Linked DNA regions of Homo sapiens. The gene in region 5 interacts genetically with the main gene of each other region. Each region holds a gene or a part of one and is shown on either strand. Other genes may lie near its edges. The genes, in order: RPL32, TIMELESS, UBA2, MBTPS2, RBBP8 and MED23.

What was found.
Region 1: changes in RBBP8 (region 5) and RPL32 together harm fitness more than expected from each alone (negative genetic interaction), as found in Homo sapiens cells (one large-scale study listed by BioGRID).
Region 2: changes in RBBP8 (region 5) and TIMELESS together harm fitness more than expected from each alone (negative genetic interaction), as found in Homo sapiens cells (one large-scale study listed by BioGRID).
Region 3: changes in RBBP8 (region 5) and UBA2 together harm fitness more than expected from each alone (negative genetic interaction), as found in Homo sapiens cells (one large-scale study listed by BioGRID).
Region 4: changes in RBBP8 (region 5) and MBTPS2 together harm fitness less than expected from each alone (positive genetic interaction), as found in Homo sapiens cells (one large-scale study listed by BioGRID).
Region 6: changes in RBBP8 (region 5) and MED23 together harm fitness more than expected from each alone (negative genetic interaction), as found in Homo sapiens cells (one large-scale study listed by BioGRID).

What each region holds. Positions count from the first base shown.
Region 1 is NC_000003.12:12,838,160-12,843,782, forward strand, and holds the start of RPL32 (large ribosomal subunit protein eL32), read right to left. Parts: upstream 3,407-5,623; 5' UTR 3,335-3,406; intron 2,292-3,334; exon of another isoform or gene 2,084-2,291; 5' UTR 2,079-2,083; coding exon 1,983-2,078; intron 1,372-1,982; coding exon 1,190-1,371; intron 1-1,189. UniProt on the Homo sapiens protein: Component of the large ribosomal subunit. The ribosome is a large ribonucleoprotein complex responsible for the synthesis of proteins in the cell.
Region 2 is NC_000012.12:56,416,955-56,421,926, forward strand, and holds part of TIMELESS (protein timeless homolog), read right to left. Parts: coding exon 4,945-4,972; intron 4,856-4,944; coding exon 4,773-4,855; intron 4,540-4,772; coding exon 4,397-4,539; intron 4,181-4,396; coding exon 4,009-4,180; intron 3,928-4,008; coding exon 3,859-3,927; intron 3,734-3,858; coding exon 3,615-3,733; intron 1,406-3,614; coding exon 1,180-1,405; intron 1,055-1,179; coding exon 953-1,054; intron 833-952; coding exon 762-832; 3' UTR 1-761. UniProt on the Homo sapiens protein: Plays an important role in the control of DNA replication, maintenance of replication fork stability, maintenance of genome stability throughout normal DNA replication, DNA repair and in the regulation of the circadian clock.
Region 3 is NC_000019.10:34,468,172-34,472,329, reverse strand, and holds the end of UBA2 (SUMO-activating enzyme subunit 2), read right to left. Parts: intron 3,291-4,158; coding exon 3,109-3,290; 3' UTR 1,079-3,108; downstream 1-1,078. UniProt on the Homo sapiens protein: The heterodimer acts as an E1 ligase for SUMO1, SUMO2, SUMO3, and probably SUMO4. It mediates ATP-dependent activation of SUMO proteins followed by formation of a thioester bond between a SUMO protein and a conserved active site cysteine residue on UBA2/SAE2.
Region 4 is NC_000023.11:21,849,617-21,853,116, reverse strand, and holds part of MBTPS2 (membrane-bound transcription factor site-2 protease), read right to left. Parts: intron 1,609-3,500; coding exon 1,505-1,608; intron 1-1,504. UniProt on the Homo sapiens protein: Zinc metalloprotease that mediates intramembrane proteolysis of proteins such as ATF6, ATF6B, SREBF1/SREBP1 and SREBF2/SREBP2.
Region 5 is NC_000018.10:22,935,576-22,940,547, reverse strand, and holds part of RBBP8 (DNA endonuclease RBBP8), read right to left. Parts: intron 3,795-4,972; 5' UTR 3,697-3,794; coding exon 3,588-3,696; intron 1-3,587. UniProt on the Homo sapiens protein: Endonuclease that cooperates with the MRE11-RAD50-NBN (MRN) complex in DNA-end resection, the first step of double-strand break (DSB) repair through the homologous recombination (HR) pathway.
Region 6 is NC_000006.12:131,585,543-131,591,025, forward strand, and holds the end of MED23 (mediator of RNA polymerase II transcription subunit 23), read right to left. Parts: intron 4,901-5,483; coding exon 4,780-4,900; intron 4,055-4,779; coding exon 3,923-4,054; intron 2,305-3,922; coding exon 2,137-2,304; 3' UTR 1,396-2,136; coding exon of another isoform or gene 1,378-1,395; 3' UTR 1,190-1,377; downstream 1-1,189. UniProt on the Homo sapiens protein: Required for transcriptional activation subsequent to the assembly of the pre-initiation complex. Component of the Mediator complex, a coactivator involved in the regulated transcription of nearly all RNA polymerase II-dependent genes.

The DNA.
Region 1 (5,623 bases), on a different chromosome or scaffold from region 5:
ATTTTGGGAGGCTAAGGCAGGCAGACCGCTTAAGGTCATGAGTTCAAAACCAGCCTGGCCAACATGGTGAAACCTCATCTGTACTAAAAATACAAAAATTAGCCAGGAATGGTGGTGCACGCCTGTAATCCCAGCTCTTGGGAGGGTGAGGCAGAAGAAACGCCTGAAACTGGGCGGTGGAGGTTGCAGTGAGCCGAAGTCATGCCACTGCACTCCAGCCCCGGCAAGAGAGCAAGACTTCATCTTAAAAAACAAAAACCAATAAAACCCACCTGGAACCAATGCCCTGCAAACCCTCCATGTGCTTTCACCTCTACACCTTTGTGTAAGCACTCTCTGCCTGCCAAGTTTCCTCCTGTTCTCCATCTAATGCAAACTTTCCAGAGCCCTCCTGCCCCTGAAGATACCCCTTACCACAGCACAGACTTAAGAGCCCCTTAAGGTCTGAGGTCCATGTTTGACCTTCTCCCGCTTGTAAGCCAAAAATAAAATTCAAAGGCCCCCAGCAACCATCTGAATGCACTCCCTCCTTGAATAGGGCACTCTTGGTTTCCACAACCTCTTACTGTAGCCAAGACATTCCTTTCTAGTGATAACCAATTCTCGACGAGAAACAGAAAATCTATCCAAAACCTCGAAGTGCCGCCTTTCTGGACCAAACCAATGTATGCCTTATGTGTATTTGATTGATGTCTCATGTCTCCCTAAAATATGTAAAACCAAGCTGCTCCCCGCCCACCTTGGACACATATTCTTAGGGTCTCCCAAGGGCTGTGTCACGGGCCATGGTCAACTCATATTTGGCTCAGAATAAATCTCTTCGAATATTTCAGAGTTCAACTCTTTTGCTTGACACCTTCATAAAGAAAGCAACATTTTGGAAACAACAGCCAAAGGATATTGTAGTAGTGGAAAGTGGCTATTATTGCAGTGTTCACAAAGCAGTCTTTTCCTGGTCTTGGGTCTCTACACTTAGAAGACCAAGTCACCTCCTTCAGCAAAGGAAACACCTTGAATTCCCCAACAAGCATTCTCTAAAATCCTGCAAGGAACAACTTCTGATTCCCTCAGAGAATGTACAACACCCCCCGCCAAAATGCATCCCAAGAGTTTGTAGAGTTCCTGCCAGAAGTGCTCACACAGATGCAAACTTCTGATCACTGAAAACTAGAGGTGGGACCCAACTCACTTGTTGCACATCAGCAGCACTTCCAGCTCCTTGACGTTGTGGACCAGGAACTTCCGGAAGCCACTGGGCAGCATGTGCTTTGTTTTTTTGTTGCTTCCATAACCAATGTTGGGCATCAAGATCTGGCCCTTGAATCTTCTACGAACCCTGTTGTCAATGCCTCTGGGTTTCCGCCAGTTACGCTGAAGGAAATAATACACAGGTGGGTTAGCGTCTGTGCAGAGTGCGAACTCTTCCTTTTGGGGAGGGAAAAAAAGGACCAAATGAAAAGGAAGTATGCCACACAGTAGTTGCCTTTGGTAACAGGACTTCACTATTTCCTTACTTTTTTGGTGGGAAAAACCAGGAGCTCGTGGCTTTAGCCACTAGGGATGAAGGCACCCCCACCATTGCCACTCCCAAGCAATGGAGGAGGCACCAATGGGATGCGAGGGGACTGTGTAGATACTGAGATGGCAAGCACAGCTGCAGACACTGCTCTCAGCACCTGAGTTTTCTTGTCTATAAAATAGGGATCCTGCTGTCACAAGGCAACCCAAAATACAGGACACAAATGCAAAGCCCTCTGAACACATCAAAACGGCCAAATGTCCCTTTTCATTAAAGTTTCGCTTCACACATCAAGAGACATAAGTACCAGCACTAGGGCACACTGGGGGAGACCTGTATTTCTACAGAAAGCTCTTCCACAAGCCAGTTCATCGGTCAAAGATAATCCTGACTAGGTGATGTCAGAAACTGTTGGAAACTCTTTTCTTCACCCCACACCCATTTCCATCCCAGGACCACATACCTTAATTTTGACATATCGGTCTGACTGGTGCCGGATGAACTTCTTGGTTCTCTTTTTGACGATCTTGGGCTTCACAAGGGGTCTGAGGGCGGCCATGATGCCTTTTGGGGAAGAAGCGGCCCCAGGTGAGGAAGAATCCTGGAAGGAGGCTTTCCTGCCCAGGGACTGAACACTGTCGCAGAGTGTCTTCCAATCGCCAGCTACGGAGCAAGCTGGGAATGGAATGGGTGCCTCTGCCAGGCTTGCTTTCCCTCCCTTTCCGAAGCTGGCAGAATACTAGGCACTCTCCAGATGCGATCCCAGGAGGTCAAGGGTCACCTCACCCACTCAGAGCCCAAAGAATGCCAACAGCTGAGCAAATCAAAACTGACCCCAAGACACTCTCAATTTGCAAGGGGCAGCAAATCCCACCCCACCAGTGTCCGAACCCCCAGATGGTCCTTCCGGTAGTACTGGCCTTGACCATCTACTTGAACCTGAGTCTTTTCCTCACCTGTAAAATGAAGATGACACTGCGCGCTGAATGCCTGCAGTGCCTGTCACAGGGTAAATGTTCAATAAAACCTTCTAATTCCCTAGGGAGCTGCTGCGCTACCACACCCTCAACACACACAAAACCACCATATACCTCTGAAGATGCCTCAAACCTGGAGATCTTCCAGTATCAACTCACACCTTCCTCAGTGTGGTCTTCCGAGCCATTGATTTCCTACAGCAGCACCCCTTCTGCTCTCTTCGCAGCCATCAACTGGCCCAGAGTGGGTACTCAATGAACCACGTATTCAAAACGACTCTGCCTTCTGGCCCATGATATCCTCGAAGGCAAGGTGGGGGCAGTTGCATCTTCATATTCCCAGAGATACTACCAGAATTTCTGCCTGCAGCTGGACCAGCCGACCTACAGCTCGTCTTTCCTTGGCGGTCCCGCAGCAGCAGCCCTCGGGCCAGAGACTGCAGCGGAAGAAGCCGGCCATGGCATGAACGAATACACGTGGGCCGACATTGGTGAGCGCTGGGATCCACAGATCCCAGCTGAAAGCTGTCAAGCTGGGCCACCCCTGGTCGTCCCACGGCCCCCAGGAGACCCCGAAGTCTGGCCTCAACTAGCACCCTCCACCGCCAAGGAACAAACAAGCAGCCCGCAGCTCTGAATACAGGCGGAGGGCAGGAGGCTCTGGGACGCAAAGCCCTATCAACTCGGCGGCTTCGTTCTGTTCCTGTACACGCTCCAGTAAGCTGACAATAACAATACCCACAGACACTACCGCGCTGAAGGGGAGGCCTCCGCACCACTGGGCGACGGGGCCAGATGAATCCCGCAGGAATGCGGATTGCCACGGATTAACACTTACCGAGAAGGAGATGGCTGCCACCTCCGTAGGCAGCGCCGAGGAAGAGAGAAGGGACGGTGGCGCGCAAGGGCTGATGGGTCGTAACCCCTGGGTCCTAGCAGGGAAAAAGGCAAGCACTTCCGGCTCCGGCTCTTTTAAATAAAATAAAGACACGTCAAAAAATAATGCCGCAAAAATTCTGAGTATACATGTTTTAATAGACAATAATAACTAGGAATAGGACTGAGAAATGTATTCTACCTATCCTTGGGACTACGTAGAAATTTGGAATTCTTTCTGAGCTAATAAGACCTGGTGGAGGGAGGAATTTACTTCCGCCAGAAGTCGAAGCCAATCCGCTTTTGGGCTATTTCCGCCCGCGTTTCTTCTACTCCGAAGTGCGCCTCTTAGTGGTCAGAAGAGAACAAGACAGAGACTTCCTAATAATTTCATCACCGAATTTAGACAGTAAATAGTAACGAAAACAGCTAACATGCGATGGAGTTCACTATGCCTACCACAATTCTATAACGTACCCCTATTATTGTCTCCATTTTGCATATGTGGAAGATGAAATTTGGAGACTTGACTCCAAACTCCACGCTTCTAACCACTGGGCGAAACTGCCTAGTTTTTCTTTGTTCATTTTTTAGAAATGGGGTCTCACTCTGTTGCCCAGGCTGGTCTTGAACTCCTGGGCTCAAACGATTCTCTCGCCTCAGCCTCCTGAGTAGCTGGGATTACGGGCACGAGCTACTGCCTAGATGTTTTTTGTTTTGTTTTGTTTTTTGGTTTTTGGTTTTTTTTAGACAGGGCCTCCCTCTGTCACCTAGGCTGGAATGCAAAGGTGCCATCTCACGGCTCACGGCAGCCCCTGCCTCCCAGACTGCCTAGTTTTTAAAGATGCTCTTGATTTGTTTTGCTTAGCTTTTGTATTTAAGATTATTGTGCAAATTGGCTGAGCACTATGGTTCACACCTATAATTCCAATACTTTGGGAGTCTGAGGTGGGAGATTTGCTTGAGCCCAGGAGTTCAAGACCGGCCTAGGCAACATAGTAAGACCCTGTCTCTACAAAAAATAAAATAATTAGCTGGGGCTGGTGGCGCATGCCTGTAGTCCCAGTTACTCGAGAGGCTGAGCTGGGATGATCACGTGAGCCCAGCAGTTCTAGACTGCAGTTAGCTGTGATAATGCCACTGCACTCCAGCCTGAGTGACAGAGCAAGACTCTGTCTCAACAACAACAAACCTATAAAGACAAATAACCCAATTGAAAAATGGGTAAAGAATCCAAATAGACATTTCTCTGTGGCCAATGAACACATGAAATGATCCACATCATTAGCCATCAGGGAAATACAAACTGGAACTGCAGTGAGATACCATTTCACACTCACTAGGACAGAGAAATGGGAATGTCCGTACAGTGCTAGTGCAAATATGAAATGGTGCAGTCACTTTGGAAAAGAATAGCATTTCCTCAAAATGTTAAACATAAAGTTACTGTAAGACCCAGCGACTGGGCGCGGTGGCTCATGCCTGTAATCCCAGCACTTTGGGAAGCTGAGGTGGGCAGATCACCTGTGGTCAGGAGTTCGAGTCCATCCTGGCCAACATGGTGAAACCCCATCTCTACTAAAGTTACAAAAAATTAGCTGGGTGTGGTGGCACATGCCTGTAGTTCCAGCTACTAGGGAGGCTGAGGCACGAGAATCACTTGAACTCAGGAGGTGGAGGTTGCAGTAAGTGGAGATCGCGCCATTGCACTCCAGCCTGGGCAACAAGAGCGAAACTTTGTCTCAAAATAATAATAATACATGAATTGGTGTCCCACAAAATGAAGATACTTTTTTTCTGATAAGAATATACACATAAGATTTATGTCAACTCAGTAATCATTCAGGAGGTTTTACTTCCTGAGATTTTTTTTAATGAAAACATTTTCTCAAGTTAGATTCCTAGGGTGTCTAAGTCAATGCCAAGAAAAGTTTGGAAAGACTTTGAGAGAAGGCCAGCCCAGCATCTTTCTTGTAAGCGGAGGTAGATTTGGTTTCACAGAGGCCTACTGGAAGTGATAAAAGGGAAGAATTCTTTAGGAATCACTTTAGTGTTTACTGTACATGCTAGGGACATAAATTTTTTTTAAAAAAAGGAATCACTGTGGTGTAAAATACTATTAAAATTTCTCTAAAAGTCTAGAGCTGGGCTGGATATGGTGGCTCACACCTGTAATCCCAGCACTCTGGGAGGCCAAGGCAGGAGGATTGCTTGAGGCCAGGCATTCAAGAGCAGCCTGGAAAACAAACCA
Region 2 (4,972 bases), on a different chromosome or scaffold from region 5:
CTCAGGTGATCCGCCCGCCTCAGCCTCCCAAAGTGCTAGGACAACAGGTTTGAGCCACTGTGCCGGTCTGTTGGTCTCTTTTTACCCTAAAATTGTTAAGTTCTTCTTTCAAGAGCACAGCAGGGGAAGGGCTGGGGAACTTAGACATATCGCCAAGTCAGACTGAGATGAGAACTTCTAATCTTACATGTTTAATACCAAACACAAAGCAAACACATTCATCATCTAGAGTACTATATTCCAACCCTATCTCAAATGCAGGAATGGGCCTCTATCTGGTATCTAGAGGATGATCATAGGAAACAAAATGAGGACAGAGGCATCTGGTATCTTCTAAAAGTGGTACAAAACTCCCGCCTGTCATGTCATAAAGCTCCCCATCTGGTGCTGCGACCCACCTCCAAGAGAAAGCCAAAGGAACAGACCAATAAAAGGGGTCCGGGGTGCTTTCTCTATTTCACTCACTCCTCTTATTTGCTAAGGAGCTCCAATAACCAAAAGAAATGGTTCCTAGAAGAAGAGAACTAAATCTCCAGAGAGCTGCTGGGGCATACCGATAAAAACTGGGAGAAACAAAGACTGACAGCAGAGAAGTCCAATACTGCTGCTGAAGTTTCTCAGCCTAAATCCGTGAAAGAGCCTGGGATTCTACTGCTCTGTCCAGTAAGAGGAGCTTCTGGGTCCTGTATGACCCTTCCAACTCTGACTTGAATGCACCATCTAAAAACGTGTCTATCTCTACCCCTAGGCTTCTTAGCTCTTCAGTCATCCTCATCATCCTCAATCTGGTATCGTTTCTTCTTTTGGATTCCTGGAGCTCCCAACTCTGGTGCTGTGGGAACGATGGGGGTGAGAGAGAGAGAGAATATCTAAATATGTTAAGGGGTAAGGACGTGGTAGAGTTTGTCTTCAGGATTAGAGAAGAAAAAGAAGGTCCCATCAAATTCCCTACCTCTGTTCCTGCCCTCATCTTCTTCCTGTTCCTCGTCGCTGTCCAGCAATTGTCGTTTCTTGGGTGCTGCCTTCAGCGGCTCTTTACCAACAGCGTCTTCCTCTGCAATGACCATAAATGACACAAAATTAGGAACTCGGTCCTCATATTCTCAGAACACCTTTCCTGCCCTCTAGACCAACATGGCTGACACGTTAATACTCAGAAGATGGCTGTCGCACTATTACCCTCTGGGGATGCCAGGCCCGCTTTCTTCTTGTGGGCTAGCAAGAGGGCCCTCAGGGCTTGTGCTCGGTGCTCTTTACAGTGCTCCTCATCAGAGCCTTGCTCTCCAGGGACTTTAGGCTGCAGCTCTGGCTGCAGCTTCTGTTCCTCCTCTGGTTGACTCAAAGAAGCTGCTGCCCTCCGGAGCTGGGTAGGACTCAGCTTGGCTGGAATTCGCCAGAAGGTTTCCTACAGGGGCCAAAAAGTTGAAAAGGGAAAGGACCAGCTTTTTGTTTCCCAGAGTATGATATTCATTGAATATATATGACCCAATATTGGTGAAGATCCACAAGGGTTGTGAACTCTATTTATTATAATACTTACTATCTAATATATACCCAGTGCCTAGCACAGTGCCTGCTACATTAGGAGGTTCCCAGTTATAGGTTTTTTTGGTTGTTCTTTTTTTTTTTTTTTTTTTAAATGAGAAGGGGTCTGCCTCTGTCACTCAGGCTGAAGTGCAGTGGCACAATCATGGTCCACTGTAGTCTCGATCTCTTGGGATCAAGCTATCCTCCTGCCTCAGCCTCTCAAGTAGCCAGGACCACAGGGGTGCATGCCACCATGATGCCCAACTACTTAAAATTTTTTGTAGAGACAGGGTCTTGCTGTGTTGCCCAGGCCAGTCTCAAACGATCCTCCCACCTCAGCCTCCCAAAGTGCTGGGATTACAGGCATGAGCCACTACACCTGGCTATAGTTGTCAATTGAATAAATAAATAAATAAATAAATCCTGGGGATGTAAAGGTGAATCAGGTATGATCCTTGCTATCAAATAACTCACAATCCAATGGGAAAAAGAACAAATGTACTGTAGTATCACAGGATTTTTTTTTTTTTCTTTTTGAGGCAGAGTCTCACTCTGTTGCCCAGGCTAGAGTGCCGTGGCAAAGCAATAAAGGCTCACCCTCCTGGGTTCAAGCAATTCTCCTGCCTCAGCCTCCCAAGTAGGTGGGACTACAGGTGCCTACCACCACACCGGGCTAATTTTTGTATTTTTAGTAGAGACAGGGTTTTGCCATGTTGGCCAGGCTGGTCTTGAACTCCTGACCTCAGGTGATCCGCCTGCCTCAGCCTCCCAAAGTGCTGGGGTTACAGGCGTGAGCCACCATACCCAGCAGATTCCACAGGATTAAGGCTGCATCAGGGGCATGAACAAATCACAGCTGCAAAAGTGATTATTTTTACTTCAGGGGTTGAAAGAATGACAAGGACTGCTTCTCTGACAAGGTGACAATTGAGCAGACTCTTGAAGACTGGGTAGAGGTCCATCAGTAAGACAGATGGAGTGTGTGTGTGTGTGTGTGTGTGTGTGTCACCCTGTGTGCACGGTTGCAGCCTTCCAATAGAGGGACTGGCATGATTAACCATTTGGAGGCATGAAAAAGCCTACCAGGGTGACTATGATGTAAAGTCGGTGTGTGAGTGGTGTGGCTGTGAGGCTGCAAAGGTTGGCCAAGGATGGGGATGCCATTTGGAGTTTGTGGATTCTGTCCTGCAAGCAGTAAGGAACCATCAATGGCTCTGGACAGAGGACTTGACCCTCCATATCCACAAGTTCTGAGTCTGTGGATTCAAACCACTGTAGATCGACAATATTAAAAAAAAATAACAATACAACATTAAACAATAATACACAGCCTGGGCAACATGGCATAACCCCATCTCTACAAAAAATACAAAAAATTAGCTGGGAGTGGTAATATAGGCCTGTAGTCCCAGCTACTCAGGAGGCTGAGGTGGGAGGATCACCTGAGTCTGGGAGGTTGAGGCGACAGTGAGCTGAGACTGAGCCACTGCACTCCAGCCTGGGTGATGGAGTGAGACTCTGTCTCAAAAAAAAAAAAAAAAAAAAAAAATATATATATATATATATATGTGTGTGTGTGTGTGTGTGTGTATATATATATATATAAATAAAATGTATATATATATATTTACAATACAGTATAACAATTATTTACCTAACATTTACATTGTATAGGTATTATATGTAATCTAGAAATGACGAAGTATACAGGTTGTACCTAGGTTATTTACAAATACTACAAAAAGGGACTTCAGCATCTATAGATTTTGGTATCTGTGGGCAGGGGGGTCCTGGAACCAATCCCCTCTCAGACACTAAGGGACAACTGTAATCAAGACTATATTTTAAAAAGATAAATCTGGAGGCAGTCTGGAAGATGGATCTAGGGGAAGGGGAGATTAGAGAGAGGAAAAGAAGACTAGCAGAATGGCTGCTGCAGGAATCTTGGTCAGAGATGACAAGACAATGAGAAGGACCAAGATGACGATAAGGATAAGGAGGACCACCATGACAGTGAGGAGGAGGAGGAGATGTATTTGGAAATAGGACTAACACGCCTTGGTTGACACTGTAACTGACATATTTACCTGCCCAGAGGCAGGGGGCCGAACCCCTAGCTTGCGCAACAGCTGCTGAAACTGTTCGTTTTCCATGGCTTCCTCATTTTCCTCTGTGAGTGGCACCAATGGAACGGCCTGGGAGCAGCCTAAGACAGGGTCAATAGTCATATGGTGAAGATATAAGGGAAGAACTGGTTCTCCATCCCATGACCAGGTAGGTCTCCAATAGCCTCCAGGGCTCTTCTCCTAAAAGTGTCACCTGTCCACTCACCATCCTCTTCCCGATCATCAGCTGCTCGGATCAGGCAGTTCTGGAGCCATAGGAGCGGGATAGAAAAGCCTAAGGAAATGAGGGAAACTTACATTTGACCCTACTCCCAAGCCCTCCACCTGAGACATCTCTCCCAGCCAAAGTCCTCACCTTCCTGATGCAGGCTTTGACCAAGGTTTTCATTTGAAAGGACTAAGCTACCCTGGACTTGTTCTGCTTCTGAGCCCCCTTCTTCTTCCTCTTCGCTGTCTTCCTCAGGCAGGTTTTCCTCTTCTTCCAGATCTTCCTGGCAAAAATCTTTCAGGGACTCCGCTCCATTTGGCTAAAATTCATTGGGGGTTGGGGGAATGAAAATGAAGGCAACACAAGGAACTTAGTGGAGTCTCCTCGTTCCTGACCACCGCACCCCCCCGCGCCTGCTCTCTCGGAAGGACCTGGTCAGAACAGCCTCAGGCAGGAAGAATCCAGGTGGACTGCTCCTAAGGACCACTTCAAGGGAAGTGAGCCCATGCCAGCAGAGCTAGGGTCAGATTGTTACCAAGATGGAGGATGCCAACTTTTTCTGCCGTTTCTTGTACAGCTCCCGCCGCTCAGCCACCAGCCCCAGAGCCAAGAGTTTATCCACTATTCGGGCCCGTGAGCGTTTGGCTGTGATATTCTTCATGATATGACCCAGGACATCTATAAAAAGCAAGCATGTGAATACCCAAGGGTAACAGGGAAAGAGATGAGTAAAATAAATCAGAGGTCTCTGGAAAGAGGGTACCTCAATTCATCCAAAAATGACACTTACAAATATAGTAAGTGAACAGAAGGGATGGGAGAATCTTTCCTTGGGAATAAAAGGCAGCCCCAAAATAAATGGATAGCTTGGCTTTCATCTCAAAGGTCCCCTGAGTTTCCAGCTTACTCACCATCTGAGTCCCGGAATTCCTCAAAAAGCCGCTGCAGCTCCAACTCCTGATCCCCCGTCCACAGTACAATATGGGTTCCTTTCCTGATTAGGAAGGTGTCAGTGGAAGAGGAAGCCCAGGAAGTGATCACGAGTCCCCATCCCAATAGCCTCCAGAGCATGTGCCTCTCTACCTTTGGAAGTCCTTGACACTGTCAGCCA
Region 3 (4,158 bases), on a different chromosome or scaffold from region 5:
ATGCAAAGATGAAAAACACTGGTCTGCCAAATTAGAAACAACTCCGCAGACCTAACTGGCACTTATCATCATGCACTATACATTCAAATAGGAAAGAACAAAAGAACATACACAAAATATCGGGAACACATTGTTAACTGTGTCTACAAAGCAGGGTGAGGACAGGGCACGCGGCTCAGGGCCTATAATCCCAGTACTTGGCAAGGCCAAGGTGGGAGGATCGCTTGAGGCCAGGAGTTGGAGACAAGCCTGGGCAACGTGAGACCGTCTCCACAAAAGAAGTTTTAAAAATTAGCTGGGCATGGTGGTGAGCTCCTGTAGTTCCAGGGACTTAGGAGGCTGGGGAGGGAGAATTGCTTGAAGCCAGGAGGTCAAGGCTGCAGTGACCTATGACGGCACCACTGCAAAAATAAAGGCAGGCAGGATGATGTGTAAGAATGGACAGAATTTCAAAATCAAATTTCTAGAGAGCTTTTCAGAATAAAAAGTTTGAAGAGTGAGACGGCATCCTAAGATATTTCATTTTATATTACATAGTTAAGTTTCAAATTATTTTCTGGAGGAAAATTAAACACCTTCTAAAAACCTAAAGGCAGATGAAGCTCACAGGTGAAAGTCACTCCACTCTGGGGCTCCAGAAGGCTGAGTCTTAGTCAACATGACTTTTTTTTTCTTTTCAGAGACAGGGTCTCATTCTGTCACCCAGTCTGAAGTACAGTGGTACAATCTTGGCTCACTGCACACCCCGCCTCCCAGGCTCAAGCGATCCTCCTCCATCAGCCTCCCGAATAGCTGGGGCTACAGGCAAGTGCCACCAGGCTCAGCTACTTTTTGTATTTTTTGTAGAGATGGGGTTTTGCCATGTTGCTCAGGCTGGTCTCAAACTCCTGGGCTCAAACGATCCTCCTGCCTCAGCCTCTCAAAGTGCAAGGCTTATGGGTGTGAGCCACCACACCCAGTCTTCTACATGGTTTTTCTGAAAGCTCTGATTACATGCTGAATTTACAAATGGTGGAAAACAAGGAGTAATGGTTAATAAGCTGAATGGTACAGTACAAATTACACAAGGAACAATACATGAATTAGAAATTTAAAATTTAGTTGAAATATAAAATAAATTATTGCCAGAAACACAAAGGGCACATGAATACAATAGGGGAAACAGCTTAATGGCTTTCTGTTCTCTGAAAACTCAAGGCCCATCTCTGAGTGATAAGAGTACCCTAACAGGCAAAGCCCTCTGAGGTCCGGGACCAGGAAGACAGTGCTACTCCACCTACTGGCGGTCTGGCACTATCTGTAGGCTGGAGTTGGGCTGGGGATGGTACATTCAAAATGGACTTTGGTAAACTAGGGGACAACCCAGACAAACACTGCAGAAAGGAGGAAGGACTCCCTTTCCAGCATCTCAAATTCAAGGCTCCAAGTTACTGGGCTTGGGCAAAGTCACACATTTTCTCAACAAAGGCCAACTGCTGACAATCCAAATTTTAAAAACACTGCCATTAGGCCAGGCGCAGTGGCTCACGCCTGTAATCCCAGCACTTTGGGAGGCTGAGGCAGGTGGATCACGAGGTCAGGAGTTCCAGACCAGCCTGGCCAACATAGTGAAACCCCATCTCTACTAAAAATACAAAAAATTAGCTGAGCGTGGTGGAGGGCGCCTGTAATCCCAGCTACAGGGGAGGCTGAGACAGGAGAATCGCTTGCACCTGGAAGGCGGAGGCTGCAGTGAGCCAGGATCGCGCCACTGCACTCCAGGCCAGATGACAGTGTGAGGCTTCATCTCAAAAACGAACAAAAAACCCACTGCCATTAAAAGCTTTATTTTATTTACTTATTTTTTAGAGACAGGGTCTTGCTATGTTACCCAGGCTGGCCTTGAACTTCTGGGCTCCAGCCATCCTCCTGCCTCAGCCTCCTGAGTAGCTGGAACACAGATGTGCACCACCACCACACGCAGGAAGAGCTTTATTTTAGAAAGTACTCTTCCTACATGTGAAGTCTCCAAGAATAAAGAAAAGAAAGTACTCGTCTTTGGCAAACAGTGGAGATCTTCTGAACCTTTTTTGAGATGGAGTTTCACTCATCGCCCTGGCTGGAGTAGCAATAGCACAATCTTGGCTCACTGCAACCTCTGCCTCCCGGGTTCAAGCAATTCTGCTGCCTTAGCCTCCTGAGTAGCTGGAATTACAGGTGCCTGCCACCAGGCCCGGCTAATTTTTTTTTTTTTTTTTAGTAGAGATGGGGTTTCACCATGTTGACCAGGTTGGTCTTGAACTACTGACCTCAGGTGATCCACCTGCCTCAGCCTTCCAAAGTGCTGGGATTACAGGCATGAGCCACCGTGCCCGACCGAGTTCTTTTTTTAATGAAAAGAATTTGACATTCCTGCAGTAGATATAAGGCAGCAGAAACAGGAACTGTGCAGGCATGTGTAACAAGAATGCAGATGCCATTTATTTGGTCCATAAGTATAGTCGTTATTTGAGTTTTACAAAACATCGAATATAAATAACCTGAAACTGTAACAATACACAAAAATTGGCTTCTTACACAGACATACCAGGCGGTACAAACTGAAAACTTGAGTAAATTAACATTGTTTTACATTAATATACATAGTGCCATCTAACATTTAAAAACAAGTTTCAATGCATAGCACTCGATACTTCTTTGAATCTGTTTCAATCAGTTAAGAGTATGAAAATGGTTAGATCTAGGCTAAAAATAATTCTTCTTCTAGCCAAAAATAAAGGCATAATATTTATAACCAGGTATCAACTTTACTAAACCACAATATTTTGAAACTATTAATGATACCTACGGGTATTTACATTAAAAAGGCAACATGCATTGTGTTGTTTTATCTCATGACTGGTTATGCACACACTTTGTTCAAAGGGTTTTTAAAACTATATTCCTACTTTCAATACAGCATACTGCAATGTGTCTAACAGTTCTAGCAAAATGAATGCTTTCAAAGGGAGCAGAATCATTTTCAAGTCACTGCTGTCAATTTTTTCCCTTTGGAACAAAGGACATAACAATCTGGTTCTGCCCAGATAAACTAAATAGTAAGAGGGTTCTGTTTAGAGGCATTTCTGTTCAATCTAATGCTATGACATCATCAAGCTCTTCCTTCTGTTCTATACGTGACCTCTTTGCACTGAGATTCTCTTTCTCATCTAATTTCCTCTTGCGGCTTCTCTCTTCTTCACTGACGTCGGCATTATTTGAAGAATCTTCTTCATCTGAATCAACTATGAGAACGTCATCTTGCTCTTGAGCTTATTTCAGAAAAAAGGGAAAAAGAAAATGGGTAAAAGCGTGGGAGTTACCTGTGCTCACCTGTATTTTCTATAATTGAAAGCTGACTCTTCTAATACACACCAGACTTAAGAATGGCTGCATTTTCACTTTACACATTACGTATTTCCATACTGTTTTAAATGTTTTATATAAGAACCTATTTATTTTCTAATCAAAACAAAAAATTGTGACAAGCATTATGTAACTCAAAGTACTCATTACACATCCTTGATTCTACCTCCACATTCTCCAATAGAAAAGCAGAGGGTACATATTCTAATAATGGTAGTAGTGGTAACAATAGCAACAACAATACAGCACTTACAATGTGCCAGGAACTGTTCTGAGCACTGTGCATATGACAACTCATTTAATCATCACAACCCTATAAAGAAGATCACATGAGTATCTGCTTTCCAGGAAAGGAAACTCAGTGAATGACTTCCCAAGCTTACATAGTAGCAGAGGATGAAGCCAGGAACCATCCCCAATGCAGAACTGATACTAAAGGTGGTTTTATCTCCTCGTCCAACAAAATCAAAGGCAGAATACCTATCTTACTCATGGCTGTAACCTTGGAAACCTACCCACAGTAGAGAATCAATAAATGTACATTTCAAATTATGATTTTGGAAAATCTACCAGATAGTCTCTTCCTCAAAGGAAGATGACGGACCTTTCTAATTTCAGTGAGGGGGGAAAAAACAGGTTATGAACCAATGACCCAGGCCATAATCTGAATGTTCGTCTCCAAAATTCTCAAGAGAACATTAGAGCCAAGAGTAAACATATTCCAAAGAATGCCACAGACATAGGGTCAAAGAAATGAAAACAAAGAAGTCAAAA
Region 4 (3,500 bases), on a different chromosome or scaffold from region 5:
ACCAATATGTTGAGCAAATAATTGAAGTTAGTCACATATATACAGAAATGGCTTTTATGAGAAACTAAATGAAAAACATTTTTATGGTTTACTCTGAACTATTTTCAGAGAAGAACATAGGAGACGATATAATTCAAGTAAATTACCTAATAACTTGTATTTGTCTTAGCAATTATAAATAATGGTGGAGATTTATCTAGGTGTATTCCTATCAAGCTAACGTTAAATAAGTATGTTTAAACATGCATAATGCTCAGATTGTCCTTAAGAGAACCAGTTTTTTCAGCAGGTTTTGATCTCCATATTAAAAAAAAAAAGAGAACCATTTTTTATCAGTTCATTTTCCAAAAATTAATATTTAAGTCTCATAAAACCAAACAGCCCCCCTAGAAAAAAGTATCACCTAAATATATTGTGCTGTTGCTTAATACTAAATATATAAGACAACCGTACAGTTCATTTTTTTTCTTGGCAGTTGGGACTTAAAAAAAAATTACCCAAGTTATTTTTACAAACATACTGTAAATTGTTAAGCTGTTATTAACGATGTGTCTATAGGTAAAATCCTAAAGGCTGCAAAGCACTGAAGGCGATTTTAAAAGAAAAAAAAAACCCAGCAGCCACCACTTTAAGCCACTATTGTGCACATCTGTGTAACAGTATATGCTCTGTCAAGATGAGGATTTATTGCCAATAAATAGACTCTTGTTCATAAACAACTGGAAAGTAATAAGAAGTGATTACATCTTCTCTGCCAAAACAGAGGTTTTTAACCTTTTCTCTGGTCCACACACCGAAAGGATAAAACACATTCCTATTAGCATGCTTGCTAATTATGGCCGTAATTATCAGTGGAGGTAGCAGGGGAGTTATGACGTGGCCCTCTCCCCATCATGATTTTATATGTGTTATAGGCTTCTAAATGCTTAGGTATAGTTACAATGATACATTTGGGAAGCCAAGACCAAGAACAGGGAGTGATACTCAAAGCTAGTCCCAGGTGTCTTCTTATCTTCCACTTGGGTTTCTAGATAGACTATGATATTTGTTAAACCCAGTGCTTTCAGTTTTCTTGCTCTAGCCAGCAGAGGACATAAGCAGAAGCAGGAAATTATTTCAGCTGATAAGTCAAATCAAGTTCTAAGGTGAGTGGGTTTTGAGTACAGTGGTTATCATTCTGACTCGATGAACAGAAAGATTGGCTTTTAGGACTTGGTAAAAAACTTTGAGGCATCATGAGGATAACCACACTGGAAAAGGCAAAGGATAGAAAGACCCTGATTACAGATATGCCCATGGTTAATGGAGCATATTCATCAACATATTAATCTTCTCTATAAAAAAAGAAGCTTCCTCAAAGTAACAAATGATGGCTATGCACTAGGCAATAGCCGCAGAAAGAAAAATAGTGAAGTATCAAATATAGCAGATTTTAGTAATAAATCCTCCTAAATGAAAAGCTTTTTTTTGCATGTAGTACAAAGAAAAAGGTAAATATCATTACCTAATAGCTGCTATCCCATGTCCAATTTCATGTACAACACCACTAATGAGAACTGCCGTGAAGAAATAGGTCAGTTGATTGACGGGTAAATTTATACCAGGAACCTGTTCATAGACACAATATGGCAGCAATTATCAGTGGGGGTGCAGGGGAGTCCCACTTGGGCACTAAGATACATGATGTTCATTCTGTATTAAACCTTCAAGCTGAATGTTCTGCAAACTAAAAGTAATATGACAATGGTTCACTTCTCCATTTCTATCATAATAAAAAGCAAAAACGCTATTTCATTTTTCGAACTAGCCAGTTTCTCTGGAACAAGCACACCACCAGTCTAAAGAGAATGAGAAACACCAGGTTAAACAGTTGAGATGTTAGCTTCCTGGAGTCTTCACCTTGGGAAAGAATGAGGGAGCCCAGCAAAGTGCCAAGGAATGCAGGATGACAGTGAAGCAGGCAGCAGCTGACCCAACCTCAAGGGCTGGATGCCTGATTTGGGAATCCTTGTTAAAATTCCTAGACCTTCCGCTGAATTGTTATTGCAAGGTTCCAAGTACTTGTGTTGATTAATATAGGAACTCCATATTATTAATCAGCGAGTTTCATTTTAATATCCTCAAGTTATAGGTGAGTTGGTAATGAAAGCTGGTCTAATAGGGATCCCGATCAGTGTGGGAGCACCATACCCTTCTATTCCATTAGTTGGTCTACTATGTTGGTCAGAAAAATAGTGTGGAAGAGATACACAAATACATTAAAATTGAAATTTAATGTCGAAATTAAGGCATTTGGAACCTACAGACATGTTACAAACATATGAAGCAGGAGTTGTCTTACAATCATGTGCTCCTAAAATGTGCAGGTATATATTATTGCATACACAAGGGAAGATAAGAGCTGCACAGCAAATTTTTTTAGATAGCAAAGATATATTCTCGTAAGATAAGTAATCACTCCCAAGTTATGTCATCTGTTAAAGAGAGACAATAAATTAGGCTAAGTGGGACACACCAGGCTCAGGAATACCATTTACATACTGAGAATCTATTTCTTACAGTCCAGGAGTTGGGACTAAAAGGTATCCTTTTGGAGGAAATTTCTGCTTTCTTTTATAATTATATTAATTATAAAAAATATGTTTAAAGCAAGAAAACTGGAAAATTCAAAGCAAAACAGAAGCCTAAAATTCTGCTCCCCAAACATACATACACATATAAAACCATTGTGAACCATTCTGATGTATGTCCTTCTAGTCTTTTCCTGTACACATAATTTTAAAAACTATACTTTTATTATAAATCTGGTTTTGAAATTTGCCCCTTCACTTAACAGTATCACAGACGTCTTCCCATGAGTATTTTCTATTTCAATATGATTTTTAATAGCTACACTGTGTTCTATGGAATAAACTGTTGGGCATTTAATTAAGTTTCTGCTCTTATAATGTGATAAAGATATTTGGACACACACACCTAAATATTTTGGAGGAAGAAATTCTTAGATGAGCATACTTGCTAAGGGATTGGGCTCTTGAGACATGTTATGGGTTTGAGGTCCTGTCTCTTTTTTTTTTTTTTTTTTTTTTTGAGACGGAGTCTCGCTCTGTCGCCCAGGCTGGAGTGCAATGGCGCGATCTCGGCTCACTGCAAGCTCCGCCTCCTGGGTTCACGCCGTTCTCCTGCTTCAGCCTCTCCGAGTAGCTGGGACTACAGGCGCCCGCCACCACGCCCGGCTAATTTTTTTTTTTTTTTTTTGTATTTTTAGTAGAGACGGGGTTTCACCGTGGTCTCAATCTCCTGACCTCGTGATCCGCCTTCCTCCGCCTCCCAAAGTGCTGGGATTACAAGCGTGAGCCACTGCGCCCGGCCGGTCCTGTCTCTATCTCTTAACTAGCTAAATGACCTTGGGAAAGTTGGCATTATTCCTCCAACATTCCTATTTTCTCATCATTAAAATGGAAATAACCACATTTGCACAAAAGGGTAATTTTGAGGAT
Region 5 (4,972 bases):
GAGATCGACACCATCCTGGCTAACACAGTGAAACCCCGTCTCTACTAAAAATACAAAAAATTAGCCGGGCGTGGTGGCGGGTGCTTGTAGTCCCAGCTAGTCAGGAGGCTGAGGCAGGAGAATGGCATGAATCCAGGAGGTGGAGCTTGCAGTGAGCCGAGATCGCGCCACTGCACTCCAGCCTGGGCTACAGAGCAAGACTCTGTCTCAAAAAAAAAAAAAAAAAAGAAATATAGAAGACACTAATAGAAAGGTATCCCGTGTTCATGGACTACAAAACAATATTGTTAAGATGTCAATACTATATAAAGCAATCTACAGATTCAATGCATTACCTATCAAAATCCCAAATCCCAAAATCCCAACATTTTTTGCAGAAATAGAGAAATCTGTCCTAAAGTCAAGGCAAGATGACAATCTCTTCAGCATAGCACATACCATTTTACATAATTTGGATCTATGTACATTTCTAGCATCATATCCTATCCACCTCCCCCAAAACTCCAATCTCCCATTCCATTTCCTCTTAGAACTAAACCTAACTATCCAGAGTTCCTTGAATAAAATCAAGCTCTTATCTGCAAACTTTTGCATGTGCTATTCTCTCTACTCAGAAAATTCCCTCCCCTTCCACCATCTTCCTTGCCTGGCTAATTAGACTTAATTATCAAGCCTGGTCTGACATAAACCATGCACAAACCCACTTCCCCATGCAACCACACACACCCTCAGTTCTTCCTTCATGTTTTCAGATAATAACATAGTATACTGCATTAAAATTCTAGACTAGAAATTCCCTTAAAGCTAGCACTATATAGGATTTATTCTTATTCACAAGGTCTGGCACATAGTAAGTGCCCAAAAAACATTTCTTGAACATTTCTTTGTGTCTCCATGAACACTGGGGCTTGAAAGAATACTTTTGGGGTTGTTCATATTTCAAAACTCATTAATTAATAAGGGTGTCACCAGAAGTTTTGCAAGAAACTAAACTTACCATGGGAAAGTTCTTTTTTTTTTTGAGACGGAGTTTCGCTCTTGTTGCCCAGGGTGGAGTGCAATAGCGTGATCTCAGCTCACTGCAACCTCCGCCTCCTGGGTTCAAACGATTCTCCTGGGTTCAAGCGATTCTCCTGCCTCAGCCTTCCTGAGTAGCGGGGATTACAGGTGCGCACCACCACACCCGGCTAATTTTGTATTTTTAGTAGAGACAGGGTTTCTCTATGTTGGTCAGGCTGGTCTCGAACTCCTGACCTCAGGTGATCCGCCCACCTTGGCCTCCCAAAGCACTGGGATTACAGGCGTGAGCCACCGTGCCCAGCCTACCATAAGAAAGTTCTAATACAGACTCACATACTACACTTTAGATTCAGGTTGATTATGTTTTAATAGTACTCCAGTGTAATGATACAGCTATAAAGCACTGCAATATTAAACTTATAATAGGTAATCAAGAAACAAATGTAATATGAAGCATTTCTCATACATAGGGACATAGGGAAAGTTACAGAATTAAAGTATATTAAAATTTAATATTAAAACCTTGAGCTTAGCTTCATATGGTGTATCTTTTAACACAAATAATATTTACTCATCTCAACCACAATTGCTTAATCCTCTAAAACTCCTTGCACGTCATAAAAACCTTTTAACTGTTATTTCACTGTACTGTAATTATCTGTTTACACGACTCTACTAAGACTGCAGGCTGTCTGAAGGTAAGTGGCCATTCACTTTTGTATTTCAGTGCTACGGGTTTGTCAAATGACTTTATGTAGTATTTTTATGTCTATATCCTGCAAAGAATTTTATAGAAGAAAATTAAATTTAGAGGTTAGGTAATTAGGCTAAGATCACAGAGCAAGTGGGTAAATGAAATCAGAATTCAAATGCAGGTCTTCAGTCAACAAATTGTATACGTTTTCCACTATCTCATACATATTACCACAAGTAAATAACAGCAAGTTGTATACAAACTATGTTCTGTGGTTAAAAAGCACCAATTTGACCATAAAAATGAATCACAAAAACTACAATTGTAAATGTCCTCTAAAAATGAGATCTGGCTGGGCGCAGCTCACGCCTGTAATCCTAGCTGTTTGGGAGGCCAAGGCGGGAGATCACCTGAACTCAGGAGTTTGAGACCAGCCTGGGCAACATAGCGAAACCCTGACTCCACAAAAAATACAAAAACTAGCTAGGTGTTCTAAGGTGAAGGATAAGTTTAAAAAAAACAAAAACAAAAACAAACTAGCTGGGCATGGTGCGTGCGCCTGTAGTCCCAACTACTTGGGAGGATGAGGTGGGACAATCACTTGGGCCCGAGAGTTTGACACTATAGTGAGCCATGTTTGCACCACTGCACTCCAGCATGGGTGACAAAGCAAGACCCTGTCTCAAAAAGAAAAAGAAAAAAAGATCAGCTGGGCACAGCAGCGGACACCTGTAATCCTAGCACTTTGGGAGGCTGAGGCCAGTGGACTGCTTGAGCCCAGAAGTTCAAGACCAGCCTGGGCAAAAAGGCAAAACTCTGTCTCTACAAAAAATACATAAAATTAGCTGGGCGTGGTGGTGCACACCTGTAGTCCCAGGTACCCAGGAGGCTAAGGTGGGAGGAACACCTGAGCCTGGGAGGTTAAAGCTGCAGTGAGCTGTGACCATACCACTGCACTCCAGCCTGGGCAACGGAGTGAGAACCTCTCTGAAAATTAATTAGTAAATAAATAAATACATGAATATATAAATAAATAAATAAATAATGAGATCTTTGGGCCAGGCGCAGTGGCTCACGTCTGTAATCCCACCACTTTGGGAGGCAGAGACAGAAGGATCACTTGAGGCCAGGAGTTCAAGACCAGCCTGGGCAACATAGTGAGACCCTGACTCTACAAAAAATAAAAAATTAGCCAGGCATGGCAGCGTGTGCCTATGGTCCCAACTACAGGAGGGAGGCTCACTTGAGAATGGGAGGTTGAAGCTGCAGTGAGCTGTGATCACACCACTACACCCCAGCCTGGTGACACAGTGAGACCCTGTCTCAAAAAAAATAAAAAAAAAAAAAAGATATCTTTGAATTTAAAGATGGCCATTAAATGTACAAAATTCAACAGTGGACTGAATTAAAAAAAAGTATATATACATCATGGAATACAATGAAGCCATAAAAAAGAACAAAATTATTTTCTTTGCAGCAACATGGATGCAGATGAAGCCATTACCCTGAGCAGACAACAGAAATACTGCATGTTCTCATTTATAAGTGGGAGCTACACATTTAGTACACATGGACACAAAGAGGGGAACAACAGGTACTGGGACCTACATGAGGGTGGAGGGTCAGGGGGGTGGGAAGAGGGTGGGGATTGAAAAACTACCTATGGGGTACCATGCTCACTACCTGGGTGATGAAATCATTTGCACACCAAACCCCAGCAACATGCAATCTATCCATGTACCAAATCTGCACATGTACCCCCGGAACCTAAAAGCTGAAATAGAAATAATAAACAGGACTGTCATACAAAGGTATACAAAGCCACTACAGTCTCAACAAAATACTGCTGTAAGTATTTAAGAAAAGATTTTACCTTGTACTTCTCTATCATGACATTCTTTTAGTTTTGTCCAAAGGTCCTTAAAGTCACTAGATGTATCTGCAGAGTTAGGGCTTCCACAGCTGCTTCCCGAGATGTTCATCTTGCTTAATATGCTCCACACTTCTACTTGCTTAATATTTTCTGACCTTTTCTGTTACATTATAGAGGTATCAAGTCGTCTTTGGACAGGTCAAATACCTGAAATGACAGATTGCAACATAAATGAACTTTGCATTTATCTTTATGTACTTTGAAATCAGGATGAAACACAAGCCCAGATATCCTCATTTACCATTTCCTTATTTACCTATAATCAATCATTTTTAGAATTTGGGAGGGGAAGGAAAGAATAAGGAAAGATGATAATGGTGAGAAAAGTTCTGATTTCAGTTATTTGGCTATATGAGGTAAATTTTCAGGCAAATTTTCTTATTTCTCTTAGAGGAAGAAATTATCTCAATTATATTAAACAGAAAGGATTCAGATATTGAGGGGTTTTTATCATTCATGGTCAGTATTAATTTACCACTATAGACTAATGTATTGTTTTGGCTGGGGGAGATGGCTCTTGCCTGTAATCCTAGCTCTTTGGGAGGCTGAGGTGGGCAGATCACTTGAGGCCAGGAGTTTGAGATCAGCCTGGCCACCATGGTGAAACCCCATCTTTACTAAAAATACAAAAATTTGCCAGGTGTGGTAGTGCGTGCCTGTGGCCCCAGCTACTCAGGAGGTTGAGGCAGGAGAATTGCCTGAAACTGGGAGGCGGAATTTGCAGTGAGCGGAGATCGTGCCACTGCATTCCAGCCTGAGCGACAGAGACCCTGTCTCAATTAAAAAAAAAAATTGGTTTTTTTAACTTTTGAATTGGTGAAACATACTGAGCCCAAAACTGAAAAATATTCTTAGTCTTGACTTAACAAGCATCCACATATATACACATATCTATATATATTTTATAAAAGAGACAGTTGACTGATGTATTAACACAGATGAGGATCTGTATAACTTTCCAAAAACAAGAGAAGTCAGTAAGATTTAAACACAGCAAAGATCTATGAATACAGAAACATCTTAGAGTCATAAGACAATTAGGGTAATGTTACTTCATGCCTCTCTTAGAATAAAGGTGAATCATTAAGTTTATTACATAGTCCTTGAAGAAACCAACAGGTTAAGAAGTTTGAATGGATTAGTAAATATTTTAATATGTGTTCTTAAAATGAAACCATTAATTAGCTACAACTTAAAAAGTAATAGTGATCAGCAAGTCTACTAAACCTCACATCTGGCTCCTTAGCCAAAGCAAACTGATTGTTTCCTGCTAACCATTTCCTGAGGTCTCTGACAAAGGGGCTGAAAGAGTAATTCTGAAGGGA
Region 6 (5,483 bases), on a different chromosome or scaffold from region 5:
CATTTAAATTAAAGCTTAATAAAATTAAAAAATTCAGTTCCACATTTCAAATGCTTCCTAGATAAATGTAGCTGCTAACTAGTGTATTGAATAGCACAGGTAAAGAACATTTCCATCATTGCAGAAAGTCATACTGGACAGAGCCACTCTAAACTTACTATTAATTTTCAAAAAGAAAAACTTTTAGGATGTGATAAACATAAAGGCATTTTTTTCCCCTCTGCTGTATTCTAAACCCAAATAAAGTTTTTGTCTTCTATTAGTCTCTGATTAAAAACATATTTAAAAGCCTATCCAGGGAAATTATATTCCCATGTTTTTAAGCTAGAGAGGGAAAACTGAATTTGTAATAAATTAATTAGAATGTTTATGTCCTTGAGAAAGTGATTATATTGATTTTCATTTCCTCTATTGTTTGTATAATACTAGTGTCACAATTTTATCCTCATTCTAGGATCAAAAAGCAATAAATTCCTCAAGGCAGCAAGAATACATTGACGCTATGCTAAGATTAACACTTGAAATAATCTCTAGCATGTTTTCTGGGTAATTTTAAGAATGAGTCTGCAGGGGCCGGGCACAGTGGCTCACGCCTGTAATCCCAGCACTTTGGGAGGCTGAGGCGGGGGATCACGAGGTCAGGAGATTGAGACCATCCTGGCTAACACAGTGAAACCCCGTCTCTACTAATACTAAAAATACAAAAAATTAGCCAGGCGTGGTGGCAGGCGCCTGTAGTCCCAGCTACAAGGGAGGCTGAGGCAGGAGAATGGCGTGAACCCGGGAGGTGGAGCTTGTAGTGAGCCCAGAGTATGCCACTGCACTCCAGCCTGGGTGACAGTACGAGACTCCGTCTCAAAAAAAAAAAAAAAGAAAAGAGTAAGTCTGCAAAAATTACTTTTACCATTATATAAATTTTTAGCTGGACTTGCATGGCCAGTAATGATTTAGTGATGGCAATTACATGAGCTACAAAGAAAATAAAGTTCTAGGAGGAATGTATTTAGAAATATGAATTTGAAATACAGTTGGTTAAATTCACTAGTTCTTTTTAAAAGAATCTGTAACTCTTAATTCCTAGGCCAATGTCAGTCACCAACTGTAGTGTAGGAACCACAGAGTACCCCATTTCCAACTGACCCCAGCCAGCACACCACCTGGCACACAGCCGACACTCATTCCAATGGAGTCGGGAAACAATCACACGGTTTATTCATTCAGCAGACTTTACTCATTAGTTTTCAAGTCTTTCGCAATGCCAATTCCCCCAAAATTAACAATGTCTCTCAAAATCCAAGAAATAAAATGTGTACTGTATTTACAAATATAAAATTTAAAAATTTTAAGATTATAAAAATTGAAGAATTACATCATCTGTCAGGTGAGAGTGTCAACCTGCAAAAGCAATTAACTTATTTTTAAAAAAAGAAATTGGAGAATCAACCATTTAAGCATGATTTTAAGTTCAAGAATTTTCAGATGTTATTTTCTTACATGGCTTCCAACTAATTTTATACAGTAAGTTCAAGTCCATAGCAAAGGTAATAAAACTGCCAGTTGACCTTGATAGAAACTATGGAAATTTATAATAAAATTTCAAGTCATTTTAAAAAGAATATGAAGCCTTGTTTGCTCCTACAATGCAACAAAATCTAGATTCCTTTTCTTGATATAAATCTCTATTATTCTGAAAATCTACCAAGAGATTTATGTATAAAATATTTGTAATAACTGTTTTACATGTGTGGTGCCTTTAAAATAATATATCTGAAGACTAAATATGTCATTAATAATAAAAAATACAAACAAAAACAACGGCTAGAATAGGAAAGACTGAAAGTGCCAATGACAAGTCATTTGATCACAGATACCTCTATGTTCCTACATAGCTCTAATAAGTTGTTATGAATATGAACAACATGTATCTTACTTGATCTCTTAGAGACAAAAATATAGATAGGGAGATGGGAGTTATAAGGTGTCAACAGATTCATCATTTGAATCAAAATAAAACAATCTGAATATCATCACTGCTTCTACTATATCACTACAGTGTGATCGCATTCAGATTTAAAAGGTTTGAGTCCACTCTCAAAGACGGATATATTTCTACTTTCTCCACAGTACAGTCTGGCTTCACTGAGTTACTGGTAAAGACACGGGCACCTGATTAGACTGAGGTGCTGGAGACCCACTGTTCATGGCTTGTGGAGGCACTGCAGCTGGCTCCATCTTGCTAATGTGTGTGATGAATCGAAGACGAAGTTTTAAAGCTGGTTTTAAGTTACAGATAATCTTCTCTACCTAAGAAATAAAAACACATTAAAACGTACTTTAATCAGAGAATTTCAACTTCTCACATTTAAAGCAGGATTTACACATATCCGGAGACAATAAACTAAGGAGTGTCGTGGGGTAGATGAGAAGTTTCTTAACATGTTCTGTGTTTTAAGAAAAGCAGATACAATGATTTCTTTCTTGCATGAGAAACAATACGTTCTCCCTCACACACACCCCTTATATATTATATGTGCATGTCTGTACATGTACCATATGTATATTCATATATATGCATATACTTACAAAGGCGTATCCACTCATCTAGCTAGCCAGTCATCCCACTACCAAAAGCTAGCAGAGTTTACACTGGAAATTTTATACATCCAACAAGTTGATCATTCTTTTAAAATGCCATCTTTACAGAAGCATGAAGCATAATTATAAAGTTCTTTGAATAACTCATGTTTGCAACATTTATCTATAAAACTATTTTGGTTTTGATTTACACTTGGAATTAACTAAATAATATTAGATCTACTCTTTTGAAAAACACTAAGGAGACAAACACATCAAGTCGTTTCACAGCTTTCTTAGCTTTACTCAAATGCTCTTTGACCTTTTCCTTTCTGTACTCCCTTGTGTTAAAGTTTCTTAGGCCTAAATGTAAAGAATACTTTTTTTAAAAAAACAAACAAATAAACAATTTCTTTTACAGTTTCTCTGCATGTTCTGTGTTGTAACAAAAGCAGATACAATTTCTCTCTTTCTTACATGAGAGAGAACAGGTCAACTCTCTTTGACACTGCTGCTGAGACATAAAGGAGTCAACCTCCTTGGCATCTCAACCTAAAGTACTGGGAGGGGTAGGAGGATGGACTTAACTTTCCCTATCTGTCCTACCTCCACTCCTTTAAAATGGCCCAGATTCTGTTTCCTACACGTAGGAAACTCAGTTATGATTCAAGGTCTTTTTCTACTTTCAGACATCCCCATTAGGAAGTTCCTCTTCATATGCTAAGTCAGGGTGGCCTCCCTTTAACTTTACCAGAATTCATACACCCTCTAAAGTGACACAGAACGAATCTAATACCTATTCCAAATGAAAACCCTCCAAAATGCTGAGGTCATAAATAATTCCCTAGGACTTTTTTCTTCAGGATAAGCATTCCCATATTCTCTAAATGCTTTTCATGAGTTAGTCTCTAGTCAGGATTAGTCTAGAATCCTGACTTTAGTCTTCTAGTTATGCCGCGGTTTGTCTACTGTCACCATGAGTGTCAGGAGAAGCAGGACCTCCTTTACTCATAACACAACAACCTCTCTGCTCATATTTCAGCAGCCATATCCCACTGTTTCTCCCTAATGAGATTACTATTAATTAACCCTCTAGGTCTTTTTCAGATTTTCTGTTGCAAATATCAAGGGGGAAAAGTACAAGAAATTATAACATGTATTTCCTTTAATACTACATCTAGAATAATATGCCTCTGATGCCTAAAAAGGTCTCATACCCACCCTTTTTCCTTAAAAGAAAAAATTAGACAAAATAAAAATAATCACCCAAACCAAAAAAGTCTATTACTATATGTTCAAGTTTTCTAAATTAAACATCATTAAAAATAATTAAACAAATTCAACTTACTTGCTCTTTCACGCTGTCACCAGTAAACATATACTTCATGTGATAGAGGAAGTCACAGATGGGATCCATGTAATTTAAATGGGTGCTACACTGGTCAACATTCAGCAGCATGTCATAAAACGCCACACCAATCTATTTAACAAATAATGTAAAATTATTTAAGTGATCAAGTGATTCAGTAATTCAGCATGATGCAGCTGGGCTCCATTACAACACTAGCACCGGGGGATACTGTCTTTGCTGTAGAACTGTCATATACCATATACACCTCTATGCACATGAGATATGATATGGCTTGCATTTATAAAAGAATCTATAGTGCTACAAAATGCCCCTGACAAGGCTTAAATAAAATTTCTCTTCATAGTTAAGTAATTTCTCTTAAAATCAAGAGATAAACAATCCCCTTTCTAGACACCATCTCTCGATGTCTGGGATAACTCCACTCCTAGGGATCCTTTGGATTATACTTTCTTAGTTCCATTTGGTAGCTCTTGCTTTAAGGTTCTACTCCTGGGTCCTTTCCTTGTTTGCGACATTTTGTTAGAAGTGACTGACTTCATCCATTCTCATGATTTTAATTAGCTCCTCTGCACTGTAAGATCTCAAATGTACTTCTCCATCCTTAACCTCTTCTCAACCTTCATGATGGGCGTTTCCTCTGCATCTCCAATTCAATACATCCCACCCTAAATTCATTACTGGCAAACTAAGTCCTCTAAAATTGCTCTTGGATCCTGTTAAACTAGTTTCACTACTAATGGTTGTGACCTGCAGTTTCAATAACACTGGTAAAGAAACTTAAATAGATACTTCAGAATTTAATCATGTCACAGGAAACCCAGATTATATTTTACCTCTATCATACAACGAGTTCTCTCTTGCTGAAATCTTTGTAAAAATGGTCCAACAAGATGGTATACATAAAGCAACTGGAATTCGGTCTTCACTATAGGAAGAAGTACTTCAGTAAGAAACCTAAAATTTGAAGATAAAAATCTCCTGTGACTTGAAATTATTTAAATTGTTTGAATTTTGTTCATACAGTATATACAAAGTATTACAATAAAATATAATTTTTTAAAGTTCCTTTTAATTTGGTAACAATAATATTTCTAATTAATCTCACATCTCTCACTGGCTATTACTTTCACTTGATTATTTTTATTTATTTATTTTTTTGAGACGGAGTCTCACACTGTTGCCTGGGCTGGAGTGCAGTGGCGTGATCTTGGCTCACTGCAACCTCCGCCTCCTGGGTTCAAGTGATTCTCCTGCTGACTAGCTGGGATTACAGGTGCACACCACCACGCCTGGCTAATTCTTTTATTTTTAGTAGAGACGGGGTTTCACCATGTTGGCCAGGATGGTCTCAATCTCCTGACCTTGTGATCCACCCATCTCGGCCTCCCAAATTGCTGGGATTACAGGCATGAGTCACCGCGCCCAGCCGCAAGTTGTTCTAATGAATGAAGTATATACCTCATCTGTTAATGAGATTAGAACAAAATGAAATACAATTTTTTTTTTTTTTTCAGATGGAGTCTCACTCTGTCACCAG